Homo sapiens: one gene and its partners. The protein of the gene in region 1 interacts with the protein of each later gene in a pairwise test. Each region holds a gene or a part of one and is shown in the gene's direction. Other genes may lie near its edges.

Region 1 (5,511 bases):
AGGCTGGAGTGCAGTGGCACAACCTTGGCTCACTGCAACCTCCATCTCCAGGGTTCAAGCAACTCTCCTGCCTCAGCCTATGAAGTAGCTGGGATTACCAGCACTTGCCACCATGCCTGGTTAATTCTTGTATTTTTAGTAGAATTTATCTACAGAGGAAGATCGTGCCTTTCCTTCTCCGGGCTGAACACAACTGGGAAGGACATACCAGCTGGAGCAGCTCAGCACAGTCAGGAAAGAGCAAATTCGTTCCTGATTCACTAACTGCACTCATCCTGTGTACTCAAGAACGGAATATATTTAGATGGAATTGCAGATGAACTGCTGCTGCCTTATTATTATACTACTGCCCAAAACTCTGGAACCACATAGGTTCTGGCAATAGGATATCTCTCACTGCCCACACTCTTTCAGCATAACTCAGGAGTGGAGATTTGGATGGCAAAAGATACTTAAAATATTACTGTGGGAATTAGGAATAAAACGGGCCCCTCAATAAGGATAGCTGAGGGAAGCATTCTGACTAGGTAGAAATCACATAGATGAGACATAATTCTTTTCTGCTCCAATTCCTGGTATCTTGGAAATATGTTGACCTGGGCTTTGTGTGGCACTTTTATTGCCACTTGATAATTCTGTTATAAATGGAAAATTATTGTAGGTAACTCTTACTGTCACGTAATTTTTCTGGAGTTAAATATAGAAAAGGAATTATTGGCTATAGCATACGTGTAGTTTTGTCTTTGCTAAATAATTCCAGGTTGTTTTCCAGAGTGATTTACCACTTTACACGCTCAGCAGTGGTATATAGGTGTTCCTGATATTGTAAGACTTAAAGTTTTGCAGTTTGGTGGATGTAAATGGCATCTAATTGTTTCAATGGTCCTGTATTATTAAGGAGGTTGAGAATCTTTTCATATGTTTAATGGCCATTTGTGCTGCCTCCTCCTTTGAAATGCCTGTTAAGTCTTCTCCCCATTTTTTATTGAGTTATTTTGTTATTCCAAATGGATCCTTCCCCCTTCTCCCATGTCCAGTTCCTAGAACCAAATGGATTTTTAGGAGTTTTGTTTACTCTGAATACTGATCCTTTGCCAGTTATTTTTTTTATTTTTATTTTTATTTTTATTTTTTTTAAAGACAGAGTCTTGCTCTGTCTCCCAGGCTGGAGTGCAGTAGTGCAGTCTCTGCTCACTGCAACCTCCACCTCCCAGGTTCAAGCGATCCTCCTGCTTCAGTCTCCCAAGTAGCTGGGATTACAGGCATGAGCCAACACTCCCGGATAGGGTTTCACCATATTGGCCAGGTTGGTCTCAAACTCCTGACCTCAAGTGATTTACCCACCTCGGCCTCCCAAAGTGCTGAGACTACAGGTGTGAGCCACTGCGCCCAGCCATATATATAGAATTTTTTTTTTTTTTTGAGACAGAATCTCGCTCTGTCTTGCAGGCTGGAGTGCAATGGCACAATCTCAGCTCACTGCAACCTCTGCCTCCCGGGTTCGAACGATTCTCTTGCCTCAGGCTCCCAAGTAGCTGGGACTATAGGCACGTGCCACCATGCCCAGCTAATTTTTGTATTTTTAGTAGAGACGGGTTTCACCATCTTGGCCAGGCTGGTCTCAAACTCCTGACCTCAAGTGATCTGCCCGCCTCGGCCTCCCAAAGTGCTGGGATTGCAGGAGTAAGCCACTGCGCCTGGCCTAGAAGTTTATATATTGAATTATCTTCCAGCTTATGGCTTGGCTTTTGACTTTGGTGTCTTCTGATGAATTGAGGTTCTTAAATGTAGCATGATTTATTGGGCTTTATATTTTTTATTATTCCTTTATATTTTGCATTTTCTGTCTTGAGAAAAAAAGTCTTTGTACTGAGATAAAAGGAAGCTTAGTTCTGTGAGAAAGTAGAGACAAAGATGCTCTAAACATCTTTCTCTGTCCTGTTATTGTTCAGGGGTAAAAATGTCTTTAGCTTCTGATTGCCTTCATTTCTGCTTTTTGTTTTGTAGATACAAGTCCAATTCTGCTCAACTGCTTGTTGAGGCTCGAGTTCAGCCTAATCCATCAAAACATGTGAGTGTCTATTACTTGAATGAGGCTTCTCCTAATTGCATGTGGTTCTTGCTTTGGCTTGCAGTGTCCTTAAGAGCTATCTTTACTTGGCTGGGTGCGGTGTGGCTCACGCCTGTAATCCCAGCACTTTGGGAGGCTGAGGCGGGTGGATTACGAGGTCAGGAGATCGAGACCATCCTGGCTAACACGGTGAAACCCTGTCTCTACTAAAAATACAAAAAAAAAAAATTAGCCGGATGTGGTGGCAGGCACCTGTAGTCCCAGCTACTCGGGAGGCTAAGGCAGGAGAAAGGCGTGAACCCGGGAGGCGGAGCTTGCAGTGAGCCAAGATCATGCCACTGCACTCCAACCTGGGCGACAGAGCGAGACTCTGTCTCAAAAAAAAAAGGAGCTCTCTTTGCTTTGTTTATAGTTCAACATGCCCACAATATTTGTTCTAGTATTGACTTAAATCTTCTGTTATGGTTTGAAAAGTTTCCTTATAGATAGGGACTAAGTCATTGCCTGTCCTTGGGCCCTCTCCAGCCCCACTTTCCTCTCTGCACTTTCAGCCTGCACTCCATTCCTTCTGGGTGCTTTGGTGTGTCTGAGATTACTGCATATGTCTTCTGTTTGTGCCTTCCCTTCCTAGAATGTTCAGACTCTGGCTCCACCTTTGCTTATAGGGAGGGAATTCACCTTTAAAGACCCCAGTCCGGCCAGGCACGGTGGCTCACGCCCATAATCCCAGCACTTTGGGGGGCCGAGGCGGGCGGATCACTTGAGGTCAGGAGCTTGAGACCAGCCTGGCCAACATGGTGAAACCCCATCTCTACTAAAAATACAAAAATTAGCCAGGCCTGGTGGCGCATGCCTGTAATCCTAGCTACTTGGGAGGCTGAGGCAGGAGAACTGGTTGAACCCGGGAGGTGGAGGTTGCAGTGAGCCAAGATCGCACCCCTGCATGCACTCCAGCCTGGGCGACAGACACTCCATCAGAAGAAAAAAAAAATCTAAGCCACCTCTGACAAAGCCTGTCTCCTGGATCATTCCCCTGGAAACTCACCTAATTATATCTATAAACTTTTACATGTGTGTTATAGTGATTAACTCATATCATTTTACCACCCCTACCATAGAAGCTGTATTTTAACAATGCATAGCAATTTCCTGTTTATCTAGGAGCTAAACGAACATATGTCGAATATTTTTTGAATGAGGGCCATGCTAAAATAGATCTTGGAAGGCAGAATTGGGGCTCAGATCACCACATAATTTCTGCAGCCTCTTAAGACAAAGGTTTCCAGAAGCAAAATGGATAAACATGAGAATCCAGTTCTTTTTCTCAACTTGTTTTTTTATATTCCCAGTTAACTAAAAAGAACCTAATGTTCTTGTAAGTGGACTTTTCCATTGGTTTGTGGTTTTAGCCAAGGTCCCCAGATTGTCTTTCTCTGCCAGTTTGTGTAGCATGATGTGGATTCTGGAGTTCATGCTATACAGTTATTTGCACACATTCTAGAAGAGTTTCTTCCCCTAGTTGGTGTCTCCACATCCCCCCCGCCAATATTAATTACATGTGACATCTGGTGTATTAAGGATGAGTTGTAACTTGGTAAAGGCTGTAGTATTTTGTGGTTTGGGTACGTCGATATAGTGAAACCACTGTCCTTGACAAGTAAAACTACAGTGTTGGCTGTTAGAAGATTTATAAACTCATCCTCTAATAACCTTTGTGACTAGGTTTCTAGTAGTTGTGAGGGGCAACTCTGCTGTGCTTAACAGGGGTAGTCTACAAAAGAAACCTGATAGCTTCTAAAAGAATTTGGACTAAGTGACTTCTAAGGACCTTGGCAATTCTGAAACCCTGAGTTTTTCAGTCTGCCATTATAAACCACTGTAAGTTCTCATTTCAGCCTTGTTTCTGCCTCTGAATCCTGGTGATTTTGCAAGCCCAGCCCAGCTGCCACCTCCTTCAGGAAGCCTTCCTGGTATATACTTTTAGCTTAGTACCCTTGGGACTCAGAGTCCACACATTGCAGTTGAGCTCTGATACTTGTTGCAGGGTGAGGATCACTTTCCATGCACCCGGCTGCATGAGGTACCCTTATGGCCTTCTGGACCTGACTCCTCTTTGGCTCATGTGGCTCTGTTTCTCTCCAGGTTCCCACATCCCATCCCCCTCACCACTGTGCAGTGTGTATGCAGTTTGTGCGAAAGGAAAACCTACTCTCTCTGGCCTGTCAGCACCAGTTTTGCCGCAGCTGCTGGGAGCAGCACTGCTCAGTTCTCGTCAAGGACGGCGTGGGCGTGGGTGAGTCTGCCACAAAACTTATAAAAAGCTGGCATGAAGTGTTTATCTTTGACTCTGCCTTTTCATGTACTCAAGTAAACTGAGTATTTTCTTCTGAGCCTGATTGGGGTTTTTATCATCAGAACTAGTGATTTTCAAATACATCCATACAAACAGTGACAAAGTTTTCCCCAGTCCTCAGCAAAACGAGAAAACTAAATATACTGTTGTAAATGTTGGCGTGAGTGCAGAGCTACCTTCTCTCACCTTTTGGGAGAACGATCCTTTAAGCTGCCTACCTTGATTCCACAAGTGGCAGCCATAACTCAGAAATGCCCACAAGAGTTTGCTGCTATTTAGGTAACATAGCACAAATCAAATTTGATGATTAGTTACAGAAGTATTTGTTATACTGTGATTTGATGATACTGAAACACATTAGCATCGCATTAATTGATATCTGCAAAGTCCCACAATTGGTGATAATCACCTCTAAATAATGTTAAACATCACAAAACTCAATTGTTAGTCAAGAACCTATATAAGGATTTTTTAAATGGTTTTGTTATTTAATGGTGCCGTTAGTGATACAATTTGGGATAATATTTTAGTTTCATTGCTGTGAAAATATGCTAATTTCTCTCTTCTCTTTGAATAAATTCTGTTGCTTGAAGAGTTTCTTTTATGCAACTTGGATTTGTTGACAGAACTAGGTGGGCAAGTTGTGTCTTCTGCAGTATGCTTGTCCATCACTTTTTTGGGTTTGTTTTTTTTTTGTTTGTTTGTTTGTTTGTTTTTTGAGACAGTTTCGCTCTTGTTGCCCAGGCTGGAGTACAATTGCATGATCTCAGCTCACCACAACCACTGCCTCCCGGGTTCAAGCGATTCTCCTGCCTCAGCCTCCTGAGTAGTTGGGATTACAGGCATGTGCCACCACACCTGGCTAATTTTTTTTTTTTTTTTTTTTTTTTGAGACGGAGTCTCGCTCTGTCGCCCAGGCTGGAGTGCAGTGGCGGGATCTCGGCTCACTGCAAGCTCCGCCTCCCGGGTTCACGCCATTCTCCTGCCCCAGCCTCCCAAGTAGCTGGGACTACAGGCGCCCGCCACTACGCCCGGCTAATTTTTTGTGTTTTTAGTAGAGACTGGGTTTCTCCATATTGGTCAGACT
Region 2 (5,132 bases), on another chromosome or scaffold:
TATAAAATCTTGAGAGTGGTCTACAGATAGAGGAAGGGCAGAGGCTTTTGCTAAACAAAAGAAACTCGGCATTAAATCCACATCTGTGGTTTTCTCTCTCTCTGTCTGTGTATGTGTATGTGTGTCTGTAAATAACAAATAAGGATGGTATACATGTTTTGAGCTAAAACTAGGAGTTTAAATGACAATTTTCTACTTGGTATACATGTATGTATGGGTCAGATCAGGGACTGATCCCAACACGCTCATGTGTGGCTGATTCCCCCACCCCTGACTCTACTGTGTAAAGAAAGTGCATCCTGAATGGGCCCTTTATGATTTGGAGAAGCTATAGATATCTCAATTCCTTCTTATAGAGAAGGGAAAATGGAGACACAGGAGTGGGGAGAGTTTGAGAAGATGGTAGAGAGGAGTGTTTGGGTGAAGGGAGATGGATTCGTCTACTGATGCAACTGGTGAGTTGATTTGAAAAATAACTGACATATTGGGGACTTTTATTAATTTTGTTCTGCATGGTTGATGAAGTAATTTCATCTTCACTAAACCTTCTATTAAATCTACTTTATTCACTAGTGCTTTCATAGCTAAACTTTCTGTTTTTAGGAGATGCAGTTAAATGCTGAGCCGCCTCCCAAAGTGAGTGGGGGGGACAAAACAGGTTCCTGAAATTGTCTAGATGTGTTTAGTCTGCATCTAGACACAAATATATGTACTATCTTTTATTCACGTATACTTGATATCAGAAAGCAAATGAGTGCAGAAGAGCAGATAGTTGAGCAGGAGTAGAAGGAGTAGAAGGTATTGCTATGAAATAGAGTTGATGAATGAAGAGGAAGGTGGACAGTGAGGGAAAGAAGAGGTGTGGATGAAGCAAAGTATCAGCATGTGGGTAGCACTGAGGGGCAGTATGCATGTACACATGTTTTCCACACATATCGTAGAAGTAAATGCATTGAGTCCATAAAAGAGGAAATGAAACAATTGATGCTACAAAATAGGAAATCAAAGAAGAAACAACAAAATTATTGCATAGGCATTGGACTGAACTACATCTGTGAATAACACATTAAGCAAATGTTTAAAAGATGATACTTTTGATTTTTAACAGAAATATGTTTCTGTATTTTGCCACTTAATTTATGCTACTCATTTAAACTGAAATATTTGGAAATTGAATGAACAGTGCCACGTTAGGCAGCCTAGCCAACCAGTACCTGGATTTTAGTTCCTGAATCACTGAGCTGTATGTTCACAATTCGACAAGCCTTGTTATCAGTTCTGAGGCATAGCTGACGTGGGGCGAGGGATTAGGTAGTTCTAGATGACTAGGCAGTTAATTCTTAAGCACAGGTGAGTTACTTTAAATCGGTTCACAAAGCATTAAAAGGATCTTGGTGATATGCAGGCTTTTGAACATATTTACGTTGCGATGGTACTGTTTGACAGGGATATGATCCTTTTTCTGTGATAAGTCCTTGTGATTTATTGAACAAGTCTCCAAAAGTGAACTTTCAGTGGTCTTGATGGTATGCCTCCAACTGTTCCTTTTCAGCTGTCTCTCTTGACCTCTGCAATGTGCATTTCTGAATGATTTTAGCTTCTTTTAGCTAAAATGAATTCTATCTCTTAGAAGGTGCACATTTTGTATTTCTATTCTAATCAATACTTCCTCCCACTGCTTTAATAACCCAAAGACACTTTATTTAAGTCAGCAGCGAACAGGGCCTGAGTCACTTTAGTTAAAATCTGGGCTCCCCTCAATCTGAAATCATTTCATCTCCTAATTTCCTTTTTAGTTTTTCTGTATACACAGCAGGCCATCTGAAAATAAGTAATCAAAGCAAGACCTTTTACTGAGAAAATGAGATAAGCTTATTTCAGAATTCTCAACTTTCTCACTTCTTGAAAAACATGTCCCCTTAAGGTCTTTGAACAATCTTTAAACAGATGTCTTTCTCTTAAGGCCCACTTCCAATCTGATTTCTCCCAGATTTTCTTAATATTGAAAGTGGGGAGTTGATGTTTACTTATACCAACTACATGGCAATTCTATTTCCAAAAGGCTTGTGAAAAGATAGAAAACAGATGATGCTTGTTGTCTGATTATTTGCCTTTCAAGAGTAACTTTGCTGTGATAGACTCATATAAATTGCTGATAAGAATTTAAATTACTACTTCCTTTCAAAAAATAAATTTCCCGACACATATCTGGAGTTTTTAAAATGTCCTGCCCTTGGATCCAGTACATCCTTTTCTAATAATCTATACTAAGGCAAAATTTAAGCATTCGATGATTTGTGAACAAAATCAGCATTGCATCATTATTTATAATAACAAGAGGTCAGAACTATCCAACTGATGTACAAAAGATGAAAGGTTACAAAATATATGGAGTAGGATAATATAAAGGAATATTACTTGGTCACATTTCAAAGTATATGCAATGACATGGAAAATAGATACAATTGAATTTTTAGCATAAAATACTATATCAACTGTCAATATATTCCTAAGTAAAGTCATAGAAAGAAAACATAAATAGAACTCGTTAAAAGTGTTGTTTCTACATTGTGAAGTTATGAGTAATCTCTCTCTCTCTATGTATGTGTGTGTGTATATATATACATATATATGTATATGTATACGTGTACATATACATATATATGTATACATATATACATATATGTATGTGTGTGTGTGTGTGTGTGTTTCTTTGGTTTTTATATGAGTCTGTAATACTTTTTAAATGAGACAAGTAATTAATATTTTTTAAGAAGAATGAAATAACCCCAAGAGGAGAAACCCTCCTTTTCCTTCAGGGTAAATCTACTGTAGGTATACTCTTTCTTTCTAGTAATTCATTCTCCTTGTGGCTGCTCTATTTTTCACAACACATGTCTCTGGATTGTAGTAGTAAATTAGCAACAAGAAAACCAGGTCTCAAAACCATAAAAATAGCTGCCACATACCCATGATCTTTAATATAAATATGTACTTTAAAGCACTTTACAATTTTGAAAGACTCTCCCATAAAGCCACCTTGAAAGTGTTGTTTGTAATGTCAGCTGTGTGAAGGCAGAGTTTTGTCTTGTTCACCTTTATACCCTAGCGTCTAAAACAGTGGAGATGGAGTGCATATTTGCTGAATCAATAAATTAATGTGTTTTGAACATTAGTGGTAAGATGAGATTGCAGAGGACATAATCTCACATGATACTAACACTGGCCCTCTGAGGAGGATATAGGTTTTATTATCCCCAGTTTATAGGAAACAGAGGCAGAATGATTGATCTGCACAAGATCACAGAGCTGGTAAGTGGCAAACATCTATTTGAACCAATTCTCTAGATTAGGGCTTAGTTCTTAGTATGATTCTAACAAAACTTCATGATTTTTTCATTGTCTCACCGTACCTAAAGGCCATGGTGTCACTTAATACGTTAGCATTTATCAAGATTTTGTTTTCTATTCAGCATAGAAAAAAACACATGGGCTCAGAATTGTAACACGGCTCATATTAATTTCTACTCATTCTTCTCACTGCATTTACTGTATTAGCCCATTCTCGTGCTGCTATGAAGAAATACCCAGAACTGGGTAATCTATAAAGAAAAGAGGTTTAATTCCCTCACAGTTCCACATAGCTGGGGAGACCTCAGGAAACATACAATCATGGCGGAAGGCACCTCTTCACAGGGTGGCAGGAAAGAGAATGAATGCAAGCAGGGGAGATGCCAGACACTTATAAAACCATCAACTCTCATAAGACTCACTCACTATCACAGAATAGCATGGGGGAAACTGCCGCCATGATCCAATTACCTCCATCTGGTCCTGCCCTTGACACATGGGGATTATGGGGATTACAATTCAAGGTGAGATTTGGGTGGGGACACAGAGTCAAACCATATCACTGCCTGTCTTCTTTCTTATCAGGAGTTGTTATGCATTCAAAGAATTTCCTTGGATAAATTCTGAGTTTTCTAGATTGAATATGGTGAACATGGCCCTTTGGATCCTATGATTCATAGCAATGTAAGAAGCCTGAATCCTTTCTAGAGTACTTTTTCTTAGTAAAGCCTTAGGACTTTCTGAACACTTTCAAACGTATCTTAAAACAATGTATTTGTATTTAAAAACCCCCCACAAAGTTACAAAAATACACACCTACTATTTTTTCTCATCTCTGTATCCCAATTATTATGAGTACTAGCCTCTATCAACTCAAAAACTGGCCAAAGAAAGGATGAAAGTTTGAAAACCCAGGAAGTTAAAATCTACCCAGGGCACTGCTGTGAGATTCCAGTGCAGTGATGTCCTGGTAGGAACAGAACAAGTCACCTTTCAGGCAGGTGCCCTTTACTTTCACATGTTGACAATGGCTCATTCTCTGTTTATATCCATTTCTGCTTTGCAGCCTCAATCCAGGCAGGGACAAGGGACATGTGGCCCGGGGTGTTATTTGATGTGTGGTGTATGTGTACTTCCTTCTCTTGATTTGGCTCTGTTCAATGTGAACTAAAGTGCCCTACTGTTCACATCAGGGTAGGAATCCTATTGGCTCTCAGAACCTTCTAGAGTAGCCGCTATATGACTTCAATAAAAAAGCACTTGGCTTTAACTAATTATAGCCCTGCTCCAGGCTAATTTGTGACCCACATCTCATAGTAAACATTTCTCTCTAACCTTGAAAGGCGACTAAACTGGGACAGTTTTACCCACAGAGTTTAATCAGGTCTCTATTCTAAAGACAAAGTTTTAAGAAACCTGGATAAATTTCATATACGTATGTTTGTAAGTTTTCTTCTTCATAAAATATTTGTCTTTAAAGATAGACTGAAATTTGACAAGATTCTAATTGGATTTACACTCCTTACTTTCCTTGAGAAATACTCTTTTCTATATAGTAATGGGTTGAACTATTTCCCATTCAAGTATTCATTTATCCACTCCGCATGCAACAAGTATTTCATGAATGCTTGTTATATCTCAGGCACAGAATATACAGTTGCAACATACAGATAGGGTCTCTATTGTCATAGGAAAGGAAAAACACATACCAAATAATTAGAGACAAAATTAATAGTTCAATTCTAGTTTTGGAAAAATCAATGGGAGGCACAATGAGAGTG
Region 3 (5,132 bases), on another chromosome or scaffold:
AGAAGTTTTTGTGGCCGGGCACAGTGGCTCACACCTGTAATCCTAGCACTTTGGGAGGCCAAGGCAGGCAGACCACGAGGTCAGGAGATCGAGACCATCCTGGCTAACACGGTGAAACCCCATCTCTACTAAAAATACAAAAAAATTAGCCAGGCATGGTGGTGGGCACCTGTAGTCCCAGCTAGTCGGGAGGCTGAGGCAGGAGAATGGCATGAACCCGGGAGGCGGAACTTGCAGTGAGCCCAGATCGCGCCACTGCACTCCAGCCTGGGCGACAGAGCCACACTCCATCTCAAAAAAAAAAAAAAAAAAAGAAAGAAAGAAAGAAAAGAAAATATCATAAGAATGGACTTAATCCTGAGCAACATATGGAGACCCCAGCTCTACACAAAAAATGAAAATTAAAAATTAGCTGGGCATAGTGGCATGTTCCAGCTTCTCGAGAGACTGAGGTGGGAGGATCGCTTGGGCCCAGGAGGTTGAGGCTGCAGTGAGCTATGATTGTGCCACTGTACTCTAGCCTGGGCGACAGAGCAAGTCCTTGTCTCAAAAAAAAAAAAAAATGCATTTAACGCATCTGACCTACCAAACACCATAGGTCAGCCTCGTCTAGCTTCAAGGTGCTTTGAACGCTTACATTAGCCTATAGTCTGGCAAAGTCATCTAACACAAAGCCTATTTTATCATAAAATGTTGAGTATCTTATGTAATTTATTGAATCTGTACTGAAAGTGAAATGCAGAATGGTTGTATGGGGCCTCCAAGTACAGATTCTGCAGAATGCATATCGCTTCCTCATCCATCAGTGAAGTCAGTAAGTCCTAAGTGGAACCATCAGAGGGCAGGGACCATCTATCTGTATTTGACTTGCTTATTTGTTCAAGGTTCTGAGTCAATAGGACAAGCAACTACTAAGCCACTAGAGGGCGCAACTTGCCTACTCTTTCTAGAGTAAGGCAGCAGGTGTTTCGGGACCGGTGGGGCCACCTGGACCTCAGTGGAGGGTGGTGTGGGTGCAGCCCTTCCCAGGGCTGATGACGCATCTGGCTGACGAGGCTGACTGTCAGCCTCTGGCCTCTCTCCCAGAGGTGTGCCCTCAGATCAAAGAGGACACCTCCTCCCCTTAAGAGGATTTATTTCCTCGAAGGCACAGCTTCTATGATCTGTGTTTTTCTTTCTTCCTTTCCCATTCACATTTAATTCCTTGTAGCCGCCAAGTTTCTGAGAACAAAGCTGTTTAGAAAGCAATGAAGAACACAACATCACTGATGTAGTATTCCTGGCCAAAATATTGATGTGACTCTCCTCATGAGAACAGACCAATTCACTTTGAGAGAAATACTACAAAATAATGGTCTACAGTCTTCAAAAAAGTCATTGCCAACTACCTTACATTAAAATATATGAAAGAGATGTGACAATTAAATGCAATCCATGGGCCAGGTGCGGTGACTCACGCCTGTAATCCCAGCACTTTGGGAGACCAAGGCGGGCGGATCATGAGGTCAGGAGATTGAGACTATCCTCGCTAACACGGTGAAACCCCGTCTCTACTAAAAATACAAGAAATTAGCCAGGCATGGTGGCAGGCGCCTGTAGTCCCAGCTACTTGGGAGACTGAGGCAGGAGAATGGCATGAACCCGGGAGGTGGAGCTTGCAGTGAGCCGAGATCACGCCACTGCACTCCAGCCTAGGTGACAGAGCGAGACTCCATCTCAAAAAAAAAAAAAAAAACGCAATCCATGATCCTACTTTGGACCCTGGATTAAAGCAAACAAAAACTGTAAAAGAACATTACTGGGACAATTTGGACACATTTGAATATGGGCTGTATTTTAGATAATAGTGTTGTATAATGATAAATGCCTGGCATGTGGTCATAACTGTAGTAATGTAGGGGAATGCCCTTGCTACCATATATAATACTAAAGTGTTTAAGATGAAGGTTTATGATATCAGCAACTTGGAGAGAAAAAGGGACAGAGAGGGAAAAAGCAAACACAGCAAAATGTTAACAATTAGTGAACTTAGGTGATGGGCATAGGGTATTTATCGAACTATTCTTGTAACTTCTCTGTAACAGGAAAGAAATACATACATACACTTCATCTTTGAAAGTGAGAGAGAGAAGGAAGGAAAGAAATACTGAATAGTACTAGGTACCTGGGGGGATGAGTGAGGTGCTAGTTTCCAAGGACAGAGTGAGGGTATCTCTTGTGGGATTGGGGTCCACAAGAATGTGCAGCTCCCTTGCAATGGGAACTTGTGGGGAATGCCATTCAGAAAATGAAATAAAATCTACAGATCCGGCCAGGTGCGGTGGCTCATGCGTGCAACCCCAGCACTTTGGGAGGCCGAGGAAGGCAGAGCACCTGAGGTCAGGAGTTTGAGACCAGCCTGGCCAACATGGTGAAACCCCATCTCTCCTAAAAATACAAAAATTAGCTGGGCATGGTGGCGCACACCTGTAATCCCAGCTACTTGGGAGGCTGAGGCAGGAGAATCACTTAAACCCGAGATAGAGGTTGCAGTGAGCTGAGATCGCGCCACTGCACTCCAGCCTGGACAACAGAGCAAGACTCATCTCAAAGAAAAAAAAAAAGACCCTATTGGACACAGAGAATATGCATTCAGAATAATACATAATAAAAGAACTCACTAAAATTAGTGGGGTTTGATGCTGATGAAATGTGTAAATTAACACATTTACTGGTTTTTGGATTTCCACCAGTACTTCAAATTGTAAAATTTTTGGCCTACATATTTGTTTCTATGGGCACAATTGTCTCTTTAGTAGCTGTGAATCATGATCAACATGAATATTAATTCATAATTTAATGAATATTAATATTATCAAATAGGGACTAAAAAGTAATGAAATCAGGCCGGATGCAGTGGCTCACGCCTATAATCCTAGCACTTTGGGAGGCCAAGGCAGGCAGATCTCCTGAGCTCAGGAGTTTGCGACCAGCCCGGCCAACATGGAGAAACCCCGTTTCTACGAAAAATACAAAAATTATTTGAGTGCAGTGGTGTGTGCCTGTGGGCCCAGTTATTTGTGGGGCTGAGACAGGAGGATCACTTGAGTCTGGGAAGTGGAGGCTACAGTGAGCCGAGATCATGCCACTGCACTCCAGCTTGGCTGGCAGAGTGAGATTCTGTCTCAAAAAAAAAAAAAAAAAAAAAGTGATGAGATAAAAACCAGGATGGAAAAACAGCCCATTCCACACGTGAAGTGTCCATAATGAAGGACAGACAGAGTCATCCCCAGGGATTCCTTACTGCTGGTTGTGGCACTAAGGAATTGGGGTGGCTGCCCACTGTCCTAGGACATTGGGTGTGCCTAGGAAATTGAGAGCTTTAGTCCTTAGGGTGAGAGCACTGTCCCTCAGAAAGCAGGTTTATAAGTACTTGGAGTGTGTATGCTGGGGAGGAGCAGTTTTATAAAACTGCCAGCGGGCTGGGCACACGGTGGCTCACACCTGTAATCCTAGCACTTTGGGAGGCCAAAGCGGGCGGATCTCTTGAGGTCAGGAGTTCAAGCCCAGTATGGCCAACATGGTGAAACCTCATCTCTACTAAAAAAATACAAAAATTAGCTGGGCATGGTGGCACACACCTTCATCCCAGCTACTTGGGAGGCTGAAGCAGTAGAATCACTTGATCCTGGGAGGCGGAGGTTGCAGTGAGCCGAGATTGTGCCACTGCACTGCAGCCTAGGCAACAAAACAAGACTGTCTCACAAAACAAAATAAAAAATTTTTAGGCCGGGTGTAGTGGCTCACGCCTGTAATTCCAGCACTTTGGGAGGCTGAAGCAGTAGAATCACTTGATCCTGGGAGGCGGAGGTTGCAGTGAGCCGAGATTGTGCCACTGCACTGCAGCCTAGGCAACAAAACAAGACTCTGTCTCACAAAACAAAATAAAAAAATTTTAGGCCAGGTGTAGTGGCTCACGCCTGTAATTCCAGCACTTTGGGAGGCTGAAGCAGTAGAATCACTTGATCCTGGGAGGCGGAGGTTGCAGTGAGCCGAGATTGTGCCACTGCACTGCAGCCTAGGCAACAAAACAAGACTCTGTCTCACAAAACAAAATAAAAAAATTTTAGGCCAGGTGTAGTGGCTCACGCCTGTAATTCCAGCACTTTGGGAGGCCGAGGTGGGCAGATCACTTCAGGTCAGGAGTTCAATACCAGCCTGGCCAACATGGCAAAACCCCATCTCTACTAAAATTACAAAAATTAGCTGGGCGTGGTGGTGGGCACCTGTAGTCCCAGCTACTTGGGAGGCTGAGGCAGGAGAATTGCTTGAACCCGGAAGTCGGAGGTTGCAGTGAGCCAAGATTGTGCCACTGCACTCCAGCCTGCGTGATAGAGCAAGACTGCGTCTTAAAAAATAAATAAATAAATTTAAGTAAAAGTAAAAATAAAACTGCCTGGGGAATCTACAAATTTACTACCTCACCCATCTCTCAGCGAATCCCTGAGAAAGGGAGCCCCCCCTGTCACTGATGGAGGTGTGTTCTTCCCCTTGGGAGAATAGGGCCAAAAAAATTAAATCCCATGGGTGCATAGATTTTATGCCTTCTATAGTCACATTTTTAATCTTTTTTTAAATTTGATTATTACTTTTTGAGAAAGGGTCTCATTCGTGTCACCCAGGCTGGAGTGTAGTGGAGTGTAGTGGTGTGATCATGGCTCACTGCAATCTCTACTTCCTGGATTCAGGTGATCCTCTTACCTCAGCTTCCTGAGTAGCTGAGACCACAGGCACACGCCACCACACCCAGCTAATTTTTCTATTGTTAGTAGAGACAGAGTTTTGCCACGTTGCCCAGGCTGGTCTTGAACTCCTGGGTTCAAGTGATCCACTCCTCTCAGCCTCCCAAAGTGCTGGGATTACAGATATAAGCCACAGCATCCAGCCACTTTTTTGTTTTTAATCAGCAATTAAACCTACACAATGGCCAGGTGCGGTGGCTCACACCTGTAATCTCAGCATTTTGGGAAGCTGAGGCAGGAAGATCACTTGATGTCAGGAGTTCAAGACCAGCCTGGCCAACATGGTGAGACCCTGTCTCTACTAAAAATACAAAAATTAGCCAGAATATGGTGGCTCACGCCTGTAATTCC
Region 4 (5,132 bases), on another chromosome or scaffold:
CTGCCGGCATGGAGCTTTGCCCTGTGCAGGGGCTCAGACTGTGCTTGTGGGTTTGTGTGCACAGGGGTGATCCACACATGTGTGTGCATGTTGATTCCTCAGTGTGGCCCCTGCTCCCTACTCTCAACAATGTCTCTCACCTCTCACTGTCTCTCCTTACTGGGAGAGAAAGGGATCCATTTAAAAATAAACCTGGGCTCATTTTTTCTCTTTCCAGATGTGATCCTCAAGGTGGTGGACAACAGAAAGAAACAGGAGTTGTTGTCCTACAAAATCCCCATCAAGTACCTGCGTGTCTTCCACCCCTACCACTTTGAGCTGGTGAAGGTGAGTCAGAGGCCTGGGGAAGTGCCGGGAGAGCAGGTGGGAACCACCTTGAATGTCCCCAGCTATTCCCTCGGAGCAGCCCTGAGCATCCCACACCCACCCACAGCATGACAAGTCTAGGACCATGTGGGGCTCAGGAAACATGGCTCCTGGTACATACACAGGAATGGTGTCTACAAGAATTTGGAATTCTCCAAATTCATCTCTGTAAAAACAGCTGATTATTATAGGACAACTGCCACATTAAATGAATATACCAATTAAAGATAGATTTTGATTACAAAAATGTTAAAAGAGCGGATCTAAAAATCAAAGAAACACAATATTTACCGAGTACCCGCTGCTTGCACGCCCTGTGCTAGACATTTCACACCCCCTCTCTAATCCTCAAGGTAAATTACATTTTGCAGACATGGGACTGGGACCTGGGGAGAAAAATCTCCTCCTCCTGGGTCACAGAGCAAGTGAGCGGCAGAGTTGAGGGTGAGCCCAAGTCATGCTGTCTCCCAAGCCAGTTCCTTCTGAGCTGCCTCCACATGCTGCCTTGGCCAGAAGGCCCAGGAGAGTTGGGGGGTACATGGAATAAAGCATTCCCTGGAATGCACCCCTGGAGTGAGCAACTGGGTCCAAGCCATGGACTGAGGGGCCTGAGGCTCCTCACTCCAAGGTTGGGCCTCCCAGGCCAGACCCCTGCCTGTCCTCCCTCCTAGTGCTGAAGGGTAAGGGGTAGAATTCACTCTCTCATTGCTCAAGGACTTATGAAGCACCTACTATGTGCCAGGTAGTGAGCCAGAGATGAACAGAAGCATCACATTCCCCTCCCCACTGTGCATTCCAGACCCTGAAAGTGGTTGAGAGTAAAGAACAATGTGAAGCCAGACTGTCGGGGGTCCTAGACCAAGTTTGTTGCCTCCTAGCTGGATACCCATGGAAGCCACTTGGTCCCCAGGCCTCCATCCTCACTGGCAAAGCTGGCACAGTCGTTTTGAGGATCTCAAGCAATGATAGGCAAGGTTCCTGGCATACAGTAGGTGCTCAGTTTGGTCAGTTACCCTCCCCCATCCCTCCTCCGGGCCAGCACTGAACTTTCTTCTAAGCATTTCTTCAATCATGGCACCAGGGGGCTTTACCTTCTCTTAGGCCCCATGAGGAACCCCAATCCCAGGGCTTCAGGATGGGCCATGCAGGGAAGTAAAAGAGAGATGTGCTACTCACCCTGGGAGACTCAGCACTTGAGCTGTAATTCTGGGGGCATCACCCAGGCCCCCTGGCTGTCTGTTCACTTACAACCCAGGCCTTGTTATCACATCTTTACTGGAAAGCAGACAGGCAGTGGTCCTTGTGAGGGTGATGAAATATTCAAATGGAAAAGGGAAGATTTATTATATTGATCTCCTTGGAAGGGCTCACAGGGACCATGAGCTTTAATTATCAGCTCGGAGCCCCAGCGGAGCAATGCCAAGTGATTGTCTGCAGAGGGCTGGATTTATGGCCAGGATCTGCCCCTTAGACACTCTCCTTCCTCTGTGTCTTCTGCCCCAACCCTGTCTCCAGCCCACTGAGTCTGGGAAAGCCGATGAAGCCACTGCCAAGACCCAGTTGTACGCAACAGTCGTTCGGAAGAGCAGCTTCATACCCCGCTACATCGGCTGCAACCACATGGCTCTGGAGGTACCAGGGCTGGGGCCCTCTGGGGTGGTGGTGGGGGTGGGAAAGGGCCAAGCTTTGAGCAGGCCCCACGCCTTGCCCTTAGCCCCCTCTGGCTGACCTGAGGGTGTGGAGCAGAGATGTCAAGAATGGAAAAAGCAACCAGGCCTTTCCAAAATAGCAAAAGGAGTTGTGAAGACAAGCCCTTTGGCAGGGATGACAAGGATGAAGATGCTCAAGCCTCTTCTCCTTCCCTCTCTGTCTTGGAGGTGGCGGGGAGGGGCTCAGCCACACTGCTGCTCCTGGTGTACCGTCTCTGTGCTGCAGTGGGGACCAGAGCCTGTCTCCCCGAATCTTATGCTAGGGGCAGGGGAGAAGCCCCGTGCTCCCCCTGAGCCCACAGCCCAGCAGTTTCCTGCTCTATTCTTCCCCTCCTGGGATAGTGCCTTGGCCCCCAAGCAAAAGTTTAGGGCCTCCTTGAGCTTTCCTTCAGCACTGTGTCTAAAGAGGTTTGACTGGTCTGGCGATTAGGTATTTAGTTTATTCATTCATTTATTCATCCAGCAACTGTTTACAGAGCCTCTTCCATTAGCCAGGACAGGGCTGAGCCCACCTTGGGCCTGGCCACTGCCCCTTGACCCATCACCATCCACCCCCTAGGCCAATTAGCAGCTTTGGGAGGAACTCTTGATGCTCAAAGCAGACATGATGCAGGGACCTGGCCCCTCTCCCATTCCCCCCAACTTTCAAACTGCCCATGGGTGACAGATTCAAATTCAGCTATGGCCTGAGTATGATCAGGGTGGGAGCCACAGGACCCAAGCTCTGAGCTTCCACCTACCCAAACATGGCTGATCTGTTCCTATCCTTCCCACCCCCCTACTTCCCACCAGCACCGTGGGCCTGGCAGGGAAGGAAGCATTCTTTTGCCTTCTTTCACAGCCAGGGACACTGAGACCCAAGGGGAGTATGGTATGGGAGCCAAAACTCCTAACCCACATTTCTACTCCCCTACAGCCACCCCTCTGATGCCAGCATATCAGACCTACAGGCGCCCTCTGCTCCCCGCCACCTTCTATCACGCCCTTTCCTGAGGACAGCCAGCAATTCACACACACACAGAACAAGGAAGAGGGGCAACAGCCTGGCCTTGCTGTCCCCAGGCCGCACCCCACAGGGAGGAGGCCACATCCCCAAGACACAGGCAGAACTTTAGGGCTGCTGTGGAGCTGCCCCACCCCACCCAGCCCTCTGACTTGCCTGGTAGAGCGGTAGAGTAGGGGCCTTCTCTGGCTCACAGCACCCTGCCCACTCTCCTGCCCCAGCACAGATGCCCTCTCCATCCGTGCGACAGGTATGGCCACAGAGCAGCTGCCTGCTCCTGATGGTGAGCGCATGGCAGGAGCAGGAACTTCTGCTACTTCCCAGGCTGTCATGAGCAGGTGTACTTGGGCAGCTGTCTCATTCACACCTGATCAGAGTCCACACAGAACAGGTGCAAATTAGCTGCCACCACCCCCTTTTTAGTCTTACACCTGCTGGGGAGCCTGTGAGCAATAGGGCCTGCCAGCCTCCAGTGAAATCCCTCAGCCCCAGACCCCAGACCCATCCAAAGTGTGAAATGTACCATCAGAGATTCAATCCTTTGAATGTGATGAAGGGATTCAGTCTCCAGAGCCCTCAGTGAGAGCTGCGAGGCCCTAAGGACTATTGTACGTGCCCATCAGCTCACACCTGTGTGGGGTTAGAGGTGGGAAAACCAGCTGAGATGGGTATTGAAAGAGGAGCCTGAAAGGAGGGTGCGGAGGGAGAAAAGGGAGAATGATCCAGAACAAGCCTCACTCCTGGGCCCTCGCCAGCCACAATGGGTTGGTGGGAGCTGCAGGGAGTCTGAGTAGAGGGATCAGCATGTGCAAAGACCCTGTGGCAGAAATAAGAGGGGTAAGTGGCAGGAGTAAAAGAGTCTGGAGCAAGAAGACAGGGGCTGGGGGCCTGTCGGGAGACACGGCAGAGGGGCTTGTGGGGTGTCGGGCAGGGAATAACGTGACCCAGTTCATTTTTAACAAGAGCACTTTTGCCATCATGTGTCAAATTGCCTGGGAAAGAGGATGGATTAGGGAAAGGAACAGAAGTGGAGAGGCTAGTGAGGAGGCAGAGGAATCGAAGGAGCAAGAGGAATGAGAGCCGAGTGGGAGGTGGGTGAGGGCTGAGGGAGAGTGGGAGCCATTGGTGGATACAGGGTGAGGGTCAGGGTCCGGGAGATCAGGGCCTCTTAGGCTGGCAGCAGAGGCGCATGGGGACAGACTCCCTGTCTCCCCTGTCTGCCTTCCAGTGTCCCCCAGGCCCAGACTGAGCAGGGGGTCAGTGAGGGTTGGAGCAAGGTGACGCTGTCCACTCCTGCTTTGTAACCTCCTGCTGGGACCCCGCTCGGCTCTCTGAAAGCTGCGCCAATAGAAGCCTGGAGTAGAGGAGAGGGCAGTCAGGACTGGGAGGCAGGGAAGCCTTTAGGGGGTGACAGAGGACTGAGGAGGGAACAACCAAGGGCGGTCAGGGGAGTGACAACCGGGATCTGATGAAGAAAGAGGAGCCCAGAGATGCGGATGCTATGATCCTGTTCCAAACCAGTACTTCCTGGGGAAACCAGCAAGGCAGGAGAGCAGGCACCAGGGTGAGCAGTGGAGCAGGCACCAGGGTGATGGGCACGAGGGAGGCAAGGGGAGCCTGGCTGTGGCCGCTGATCTCAGGAAGTTCAGCATGGTCGGAGAAACCAGACCTGGGCTTCCTGTCTTCAGTTTATAAAGTGCTCTCTCACAAACGATCTAATCAGAGACCCCTCACAGCCCTGGGAGGAGCCTCATTTGACTGACAGAAACCAAGGAGCTGGAACACCTAGCCCTACCCCTAGCCCAACCCCTCCCCAGGAGCCAGTGGAGGGGCCGAGGTTAGAACACAACCTCCCTTCCCAGGACCCAACTCTCATCGTACCCTTTCTCCCCAAAGAAACTAGTGTAAGAGATCCATTGGTAAATCCCAGGACAGAAAGCGGGAGCAGTTGCCTCAGCTCGGCAGAGAAGGCTTCCTGAGGGAGGGCAGCCTGGTGCAAAGCAAGAACCGAGTAAGGCAGGGAACAGGGAGAAGCAGGTGTCAAGTGTGGAGGC

Evidence for each region.
Region 2: the proteins of ARIH2 (region 1) and PTN interact in a two-hybrid assay, tested with the Homo sapiens proteins (one large-scale study listed by BioGRID and IntAct).
Region 3: the proteins of ARIH2 (region 1) and CBR3 interact in a two-hybrid assay, tested with the Homo sapiens proteins (one large-scale study listed by BioGRID and IntAct).
Region 4: the proteins of ARIH2 (region 1) and CCDC33 interact in a two-hybrid assay, tested with the Homo sapiens proteins (2 studies listed by BioGRID and IntAct).

Annotation. Positions count from the first base shown.
Region 1 is NC_000003.12:48,962,912-48,968,422, forward strand, and holds part of ARIH2 (E3 ubiquitin-protein ligase ARIH2), read left to right. Parts: intron 1-2,007; coding exon 2,008-2,071; intron 2,072-4,213; coding exon 4,214-4,364; intron 4,365-5,149; exon of another isoform or gene 5,150-5,266; intron 5,267-5,511.
Region 2 is NC_000007.14:137,231,467-137,236,598, reverse strand, and holds part of PTN (pleiotrophin isoform 1 precursor), read left to right. Parts: intron 1-5,132.
Region 3 is NC_000021.9:36,140,714-36,145,845, forward strand, and holds part of CBR3 (carbonyl reductase [NADPH] 3), read left to right. Parts: intron 1-682; exon of another isoform or gene 683-1,210; coding exon of another isoform or gene 1,211-1,251; exon of another isoform or gene 1,252-1,431; intron 1,432-5,132. UniProt on the Homo sapiens protein: Catalyzes the NADPH-dependent reduction of carbonyl compounds to their corresponding alcohols. Has low NADPH-dependent oxidoreductase activity.
Region 4 is NC_000015.10:74,266,461-74,271,592, forward strand, and holds part of CCDC33 (coiled-coil domain-containing protein 33), read left to right. Parts: intron 1-217; coding exon 218-327; intron 328-1,881; coding exon 1,882-1,998; intron 1,999-5,132.